Linked DNA regions of Homo sapiens: region 2 is linked to region 1. The links come from fine-mapping of genetic effects on gene expression. A gene starts in region 1. The other region holds a variant in brackets. All regions are shown on one strand. Distances are from middle to middle.

Region 1 (4,404 bases):
AACAAAAGAAGAGAGATACTGAGCAGGTAGAAGGGGTACTATGATATTTTGGATGTACCTGTTTTTTAAAATGATTGTCTACTCCAATACACAGTGAATCCCTATGCATTATAGGATGAGTGTGCTGGATTCCATGACTTCCTTGAAGCCCATGAATTCTCTGAGACTGTCTCCATCATCATTGGGATTGTTTGGCTCATGAGCATGAATTATAGAGACTTAACAGAGGTAGTTCAACCAAGGACAGAGAAAGGTCTGAAATGCCTGTTGGGTGAGGAGTGGCACTGAGATTAGTAAAAAATCACTGCCTTGACCACTTCAAAACATTATAAATAAATGTTTAAATATTTCCTTAATATAATTTACTAACAGATAATTCGAACGAATGTCAAGGAATAACACACTATCATTCAGCTACCATATATATATAGCTATATATTTCAGTTTGTGAAATAAACTAGTATTTAGAACAAGCAATTGAAAGCCGCAAATAAAGATGATGAAACAAGTTGGTAAATACTTTTTCTAAGCAAACTGGTTGTAGATTTAGCATTGTTTAAATTACTGTCAATTTTTTCTTATGAGGAGTGATTTCATCATTTGTTTAAAACCTGGCTTTTGACACAGTTTTTCTGAAGTCTTTAGAAATTTGAAAAATTATCTCGCATGACTCTGTATTTCATGAAATACCAATATTTTAACATTTCCCTGTAAACAATAAAACGTACTAATATGGATTATGAATGTGAACAAATTGTGAATGGACTTTTTAAGAAAGTAGATTAATTAAATATCTGTAACCAGAAAATACATTTTTAAAATGTAGGTTTGTGTAGTTTTACTTCTATACCTTGCCACATAACATTTTGTGATAGACAAATGCTCTTTGTTTAGAATTTCTCTTGTAGAGAAAGCTTCATTCAGTTGTTTCTTTCCCTTTATTTATATGCCTGTGTGCATGATGTCTAAATCACTGGTCAGGAGTTCCCTGGGGATTTTCGTATCTGACTACATGGCAAGATTCCAGACCCAAAGTAAACCTTTCAGAGAGTGGGAATGAGTGGGAGGATGTCGCCCTGGGCATGGTGCTTAGGAGGCCAGATTTCCCTAAACCTGCTCTGCTGGGAGCCCTAGGAAGCCTCAGATGCAGTCTGCTGTCCAGGTATACTCACAGGGTATGGGGTGGGGGACTGTCAATTTCTGAATAGACTTTGTCTCATCCACACGACAACATATTTTAATTTTAAAGGCGAACGTCAACCTATTTAGAAAACTATAAGTGTGACTGATGCATTCATTATTTAATAACTCCGGGGTGAAACTTGAGGTGAACGGTTTCACCCTTTCATACTCAGGAATGGAACTAGTCCTCGGTACCGTGCACAGTCTGACCTCACGCTCGCACGCTGGGCTCCCGGCCTCCTGGCAGTGCACTTAAGTGTACCCCGCGTGTGCCCGGCGGACTCCCGTGCACACCGCCGCCGTGCTGTTGAGTACGAAAGACCCCCGAGAGGAGCTCGCAGATGAGAGCCTAGCTGTTGCTGTGAGACTGACTGCGGGTGGCAGCCGGCAAGAAGGAACTGCCAGTACCGACCCTGGCGCTCCCCACCAACTGCGGCGCAGCCTCCTCTGCGGTGCCCGCCCTTCGGCATCACTGCAGTCCCTGTAGCAAAGCTAACTTTAAAAATTTAAATAAAATAATAATTTTTTAAAGGCCCGAAAACTCCGGCTCCCACCCCTCCCCCAGCCTGCCCGGCGGCGGCGGCGCTCAGTGAGTGACACGGCGAGCGTGAGCCGCGGCCCCAGCCGGGCCGAGCGCGCTGCCTGAGCTGAGCCGCCGTAGGTGAGGGGCCCGCGTCCCCGCCCGCCCTGGGCGCCGCGCCTGGCACTGATCCTGCCGGTCGCCCACTGTCGCCGCCGCCGCCGCCCGCGGGCACCATGACAGCTCTGAGCGCTGGGGTTACAGGTTGGTCACCGCCGCCGGTGCCCGGGAGGCTGCGGCGCGGCCGGCTCCGTGCCCTGCGCCCGAGGCCCGCGATGCGCGCTCGTTAGTTCCTTGGCCGGTCCGGGCCAGGACGGCTCAGGGGCGCTGGGGCTGCGAGAGGGGCTGCTAGAGGGGCTGCGGGCGGGGGCCCCGCGCGGGGGAGGGGTGGGGAGGGGCGCCTCCACCCGAGAGCGGGGCGGTGGGGTCCTTGCCGGCCTGGCCGGGGCGCGGGAGCCGCGATGCGCCCTCCCTATTCCTGCGCGTGGGTGTCGGGGGCGCCTGCCGCGGGATGCCCCTGGGCTGGCTTGGGAAGCCCAGGGCCGGCGACACCTCGGGCCTGCCCCGCCTGGGCATCTAGCAGGTGTTGGGGGGCAGGTGGCTGAGGACGAGGCCACTGGGCATCACTACAGCGCTGCACCTGCCCCCTCGGCACCAGGGCCGCTGCCTGGGTAAACCTCTGGGCCAACGCGCGGGTGGGGAGGTGGGGGTGGGCAGCCTGGCTCCAGCAGGTCTCCGCGGGGGCTCCGCGGCCTTGCCCCACCCCCATGCTCCTGTGGATTGCTCCTTGCTAAATGTCCCTTATGATATTCATTGGCCTTGTTAAGCAGCCGTCATTAGGGTGGCTACACCGAACGCAAAACAGTGTCCTGCCAAGCAACACCATTTTGTCACTGAATCTTTAAGACACCAGCAAGGATGGCCTGGCTGGGATCCCTCTGGGGGCCCAGATCGCAGTCATTTTGCTGACTTAATGTTCCTCTTTCAGGATGGTGTGAGAATGCTGAACTCAGACCCTTAGTGCTTGAAATACCTTAGAATAAATCTTTCAGTTTCAGGTACAATTTTTCAGACACTGTATTATTAAGGATGTGTGAATACACGCTCACTTTCAGGCCTCAGAAGGTTTTACTCTTAATCTGGTGTTCGTGTGGTCATCAGCTAGGCCCGACTGCCCTGGTGGTGAAATGTGGGTTGAGGACCAGTGACCTTCGTGTTAGTAGTTGGTGGATAACACCTCTAATAGGGGATCAAAAATTAACAGGTGGCGATTTTGAAATATATATGTATGTATATATATATATATATGTGTGTGATTTGTATGTTCATAACTACAACTGTGATTTGATATGGCCTGGGAGAGGAGCGGTTTCACTATGGTAGTTACCCCTGAGGCAGATGCATCTCAGGACTGGCTTTTTAAATTCAAAGATAAGGTTTCCACAGTTCTAAATAAAAATCATGGCTTCCCAAACATCTGCAACGAGAAACATTTACTCCCTAACTGGTTGGCTGTCATTCTGCGTGCTTTTCTAGAGTCGATTTTTCGTTCTTCTGTAGTATACTTTGACCTAGCCACTGCTAAAACCAGACAGTGTGAAGACAAAATCCAGCTTTGGAGAAAAACTTAAAAAGTGAAAAGGTTCAGTTGGATCCTCTTCTGTGTTCATAGAAGACATAATCTGTTTGCAGAATAAATGTGCCGTCACTGATAAGGACTATGCTAAAATCTCTACAGAACTCTAGGAGAAAGCATGTCTTATAAAATAGTGGTTGTACACTTATAACTTTGGATAGGACTTGCAAGATATTCAAAGGAGAAATGTACTTAAAAAATGTACTTAAAAAAAGTCTACTCAAAATAGTGTCATTTAGTTGCAATTTAGTGAACTGAAGATTTGAGTAGCATTTTCTTCTTCTTGGGTATGGCATTTCTTTGAAATGGTTTCCAGGTGATTTTATCATTCCGGCATGCTTTGTGTGTGCATGTATGTGTATACACAAATGTACACATTTGTTTTATCATTTATCGATGATGTTCAGATAATTTCAGAATTTCCATAGCTGTATAAATTTATCCCAGGTCAGAGTCACATGTGGATTTCAAGTTTGTGAATGAAAATTCACATCTACACCTCTATATCCTAAGATAAGCTAAGCACTGGGCCAGAAGCTGGGTGGTGAGTGAGAAAAAGAGATAAACTGAGAGCCTAAGAATCCTTCAGGAAAGACAAATATGTAAGCAGGTGGATATACAGTGAGATGTCTTATTTTCTAGTTTTGCTGTGGAAACTATGATAGTGAGCTTAAACATATTAAGAATGGTCCCCAAGGCCACACACGGTGGCTCATGCCTATAATCCCAGCACTTTGGGAGGCCAAGGCAGGCCTATTGCTTGAACCCAAGAGTCCAGACCAGCCTGGGCAACATGGTGAAACCCCGTCTCTACAAAAAAAAAAAAAATTCACCAAGTGTAGTGGTGTACACCTGTAGCCCCAGTTACTTGGGAGGCTGAGGTGGAAGGATCGCGTGAGCCCAGAGATGTCAAGGCTGCAGCAGGCTATGATGGCACCACTGTACTCTAGAATGGGCGACTGGGCACAGAGTGAGACTCTGTTTAAAAATAAAAAAAGAATGCCCC
Region 2 (4,404 bases), 34 kb after region 1:
CTGCTTGTTAAATACTTGCATGATATGTTGTTACTTTCTTACCTTATCGTTGATTGGCAGTCTTCAAGTGTTTACCGTTATAAAAATTGACATATACAGCTCTTGAAGCACTCCTCTCCTCAGCCACCAAAGTGCTGATTTTTGCGCATAGCTCAAGCACTCTCTGCCCTCCATTTCTTGTTGATGGAACAAACAAATTAAAACATTTTTTCATATTTAAGGTGTTAAAATATCTTGAGTACCACTGGGCATTCATATGTGTTAGCTTCTGGTTGCATATTTTAGAATTGGGTTGCAAATATTATAACTTGAGCCTCAATACAGTAGAATTTTAAAGGATCTGGCCATGCTTATAAATGGAATCAAAGCAACTTTGACTACTATGGCTAGGGCTTCTGACGATAATTTGATAAATGTGCCAGATACAAAACATAATCCAAGATTGTATTGCAAAGTGTCAGATTTCAAGGTCTGCATTCTACTTATTTAAAAGTATTATAAACTTATTGTGCCTTAGCAATTATTGATAATGATTAATATGATAGTAATTTTAATTCCTACCAGTTCAATTGTATTTACAATCATGGTAATGTATAAAATATGTAAACCGTAACTGTATTTGCATGGCATGTTTAGTTCTGCTTATGCAAACTATGCTAATCCAGGAAGTATCCATAAGTCATCTCATAATCTCGTCTGTGATCTTTCATGGTTACAAAGGAGCCAGAAAGGAATAATTTCTTTTTAGAAGCATACAAATAATTTCAGTGAATAGATGGATGGATGGATGCATTCATTAAGAAATATTAACTGACATCTTGCTGTATACATTGTATATTAACTGACATCTTGCTGTATACACTGTATCTAAGACATGGTTCATGTACCTATCTCATCATTCATTTAATATCTGCTATATGTCACCCACTGTACTGGGTGCTGCAAACACAACCTTAAATTATCCGACTTAAAGTCTCAGGGTGTTACTCATCTTCAGAATACACTCAAACATTTACCATGAGAGATAGACTTCTTTTTTTTTTTCTAATGTAACTCCAGAGAATACGTTCAGAGAAGATTTAAGTAGGAAACTCAAACTTCACCATCAGATCCAATAAGTTGGAGAGACCAAATATAAATTCATGAAATAACCAATATGGATTACAAAGGCATATTCTGCGAGTAACACAAGATGCACATTATTTATATACATGAGCTGAGTTGTCAGTTGTTGCATGACGCCTGAGTTAAGGTGATCAGAGGAGGCTGTAGTCAGATCACTCTGGAAGGAAAGGTTGGCACAGACTTGGCAGAATTTTTCGGGAAGATGGACAGCATGAAAAACAATGAACATTAAAAAGCCAAAGATTTTTTACAAATGGAAAAATGCTGAGGGTTGCTGGCCTTTGTATCTTGGGTCATAACTCTGCTTATAAAAGATGTTTATGAATATTGAATGACTCTTGGAAACATGAGCCAAAAAGTAATACATGAAACTTATGCCCAGAGGATTATTTCCATACTTCACTGGGAAAATAAAAAGAGGTCAATTCTGATTGACCACTGCATACCATCTAGCATGTGCTGAGCTTGTTGGTGACACAGGAATGCCACTATATGTTTCTGAAAAGTCCAAGGCAGAAGACATTCCAAACAAAACAATTAAATTACTTCCTATGGAAAAGAAAGTTTTCTACATTACATGGTAGAATTTTTGCTAAGCCAGTTTTTATAACTGAGGTCGTTCGAAATTAAGATGTTTGTATGCTTCTAATTTCTGATCACCACTGGTGCTTCTAAAATGATTTAAAATAATTCATTATTTTATATAGTTTGAAATGTAGTGTGGGCCAGTTTTACAACATTAATTTCCTTAGCAAAGAAATCAGAAACAAAAATTCAGTCACATCTGTTATTGATAGCTTTTCATTCTGAATTGGTGAGGCCCCAATTTTTAAATTTAAATTTATTTTTGCCAACTGGAGAAGTGATTTTGTTAAAGCTAAAATGTCCAACTTAAAAAAAAAATTGAAAAGCTATTTTTAAAAATTTAACATGTAAGCATTGGTCCAAAAACATATCAGAATACATTGTGAAAAGCATGTCTCTCCTCCACCTTTGGCTCCTGGCCATTCACTTGCCCGCCCCCCTCCCCATAACACAAAGGGAAGTATCACTGTTTATCCTCATTTGTTAACATTGTAAATGTACCTCATTGTAATGGTGAACTCTCATTCAATGTTCCACCGAGTTTAATTCATTTCTAAAGCAAATTATGAGCAATTAAAAAGAGGGTAATTGTAGTGCTGCTACATATAACATTGTTAATGACAAAAATGAAATAAAATAGTAATACTGTTTTGAAAAAGTACAATATAAATTCATCCTATTTGGGTGCCCGTGTACTCAACGATCTATAATTACTCTTTTCCTGCCTAATATGTACTCATTCATTGCTCCAATTTTAACATAGTTCTCTGCTGAGTCCCATAAAATTTCAGTTTTCGTTTTTGGAATTCTTTGC[C/A]TTTTTAAAAACAAGTGACAACTCTGCCTAGTTCTTAAAATAAAGATGAAGTGATACTTTTCTTTTTTTTTCCCTAACACACAAGTAAAAAACATTTGTTCATTTAATAAAAGTCCATTTGAAAATATACACTTTTATTTTTCTTCATGACACTTGTCAACATATAACATAATGAATATTTTATATTTTATTTCATTCAGAATGTAAATTGCTTAAAGACAGAAGCGTTTGTTTTGTTCACCCTCGTATCCCTAGTTCTTGAACACTGCCTAGGTTAAAGGGATGCTTATGAGCTGAGGGAAAGAAGGAAGTAAGGGAGGGAGAGAGGGAGGAAGGAATGAAGGGCACAACTTTAAATAATTCATCTTCTATTACCTTCTTGGGTATTAATCAAATTTAGGCTCAGAAAAAGTCAATTTTATATGGGCTATGTTATCTGTATTTAGATTATAATTAATTTACATTTTCAACTGTGCAATATACGAGGCAAGTATGATGCTTATAGTTAAAGATCCTCTGTGAGATCTTTAACACAACTATTAAAAAATGCAACTATAAAAAAAGTTGAAGATGACTATAAAAAATCCTTACGTTATTTGTTATATATGTAACCTTTGTGATGCGTTTATGTGTAGCACATAAACACCAGTAGCATCGGTAGCATCCTAAGATGCAGCTTTTCTCTTCCTTGGGTATAAATCTTCATATGATGATAATCACACAATTTAATAAGGCCATTGTCCTTCTTGTCACCCAGAGCCAAGCTTCAGAGTTTGCTTTCATATCTCTTTTGTGAGTCTTCCCAAACCCAGGAGTCACCAAGTTTGGTTGATTACCTTGCCCCTGAAAACATTATTTGTCCGTTCATTTGGGAATTAACATTGGTTTCTCTAAACTCCCCATAGAATTAATCTTACCATCTTTCCCACCATGTTTATAGCTTTAAGTTATTTTGCTTTATATACTAGCTGGATGTGTTCACATCTGTTTTTCTACAAGACTGTTCTTTTGGTTGTTGGTGGTGGTGATGGTGGTGTGTGTGTGTGTGTGTGTGTGTGTGTGTGTGTGTTAGCTAGGCATTATATATCCTCTAATGTAAAACAGGCACTTACCCAGTGTTCATTAAGTTGAGTTTATACTTCATTTTTGGGTCAAATAACTTCCATTAAGTGTTTTATCATAGTGTTAGTTTTGCATACACCATAAACTATTTCCAGAAACCTCTCAAGGAGATATTTGGATACTTATTTGTTACTAAAGGTAGAGGCTTATGTCAATATCCTGCAACATGTTTTATCATTTGATTTGAAATCTTGACATTTTATTTCTATTTTCATTTCCCTAGCAGGTTTAATCAGAGGAGGTAATGATATATGTGACTGAATTCAGAATTGACTTACATGGATGATTACAGAATTCATGATTTAATGGGATAGTCCTAAAAAAGCAAAGGCTTTTCTGTTTAAAGTTTCTAATTTTTAACCTCATGAAGTTTTCTGTTTTATTATTCCAAAGGCATTTTTTAAATTCCCATGTTATTAAAGCATTCTAATGTCAGAATAGATACCCTATTAAAAAATGAAAGTGGTACATCTTTATCTTTCTTTTACATATGCAATCCCAATTAAAATTAAAGTCAATATGTGTTTTCCTTGCAAATTAAGACAAGTTTCTTCTTCACTTTTTTTTGTTAGTCTTGAATTCTATTTTTATTACACTGTGGTCCAAGAGAATGGTTGTTTTGATTTCAGTTATTTTGCATTTTCTGAGAGATGTTTTATGTCTGATTAAGTGTTGATGTTAGAATATGTGCTATGTGACAATGAGAAAAAATGTATATATGTGTATATATACATCCACATATATACAGTGGAAAGTTC

Direction of the effects. Alleles are on the strand shown, and positions count from the first base shown. SD is a standard deviation of normalised expression in the study named.
In carriers of allele A in region 2, the expression in fibroblasts of the gene that starts at base 1,771 in region 1 tends to be higher than with C alone (small effect, 0.32 SD a copy in GTEx).

The links. PIP is the estimated chance that this variant, and not a neighbour inherited with it, causes the effect.
Region 2: its variant is fine-mapped to the expression of NALCN in fibroblasts (GTEx, PIP 0.96).

What each region holds. Positions count from the first base shown.
Region 1 is chr13:101,413,875-101,418,278 of GRCh38, reverse strand. It overlaps NALCN (sodium leak channel, non-selective), which reads left to right and starts at 1,771. Exons shown (of 44, transcript NM_052867.4): 1 at 1,771-1,966. RefSeq lists enhancers at 1,869-2,419, 2,420-2,970.
Region 2 is chr13:101,380,047-101,384,450 of GRCh38, reverse strand. The region is part of intron 3 of NALCN (sodium leak channel, non-selective); the gene reads left to right. Among named protein-coding and RNA genes, the nearest start is that of NALCN, 34 kb to the left of the region's middle. The variant C/A (reference allele first, on the strand shown) is at 2,525.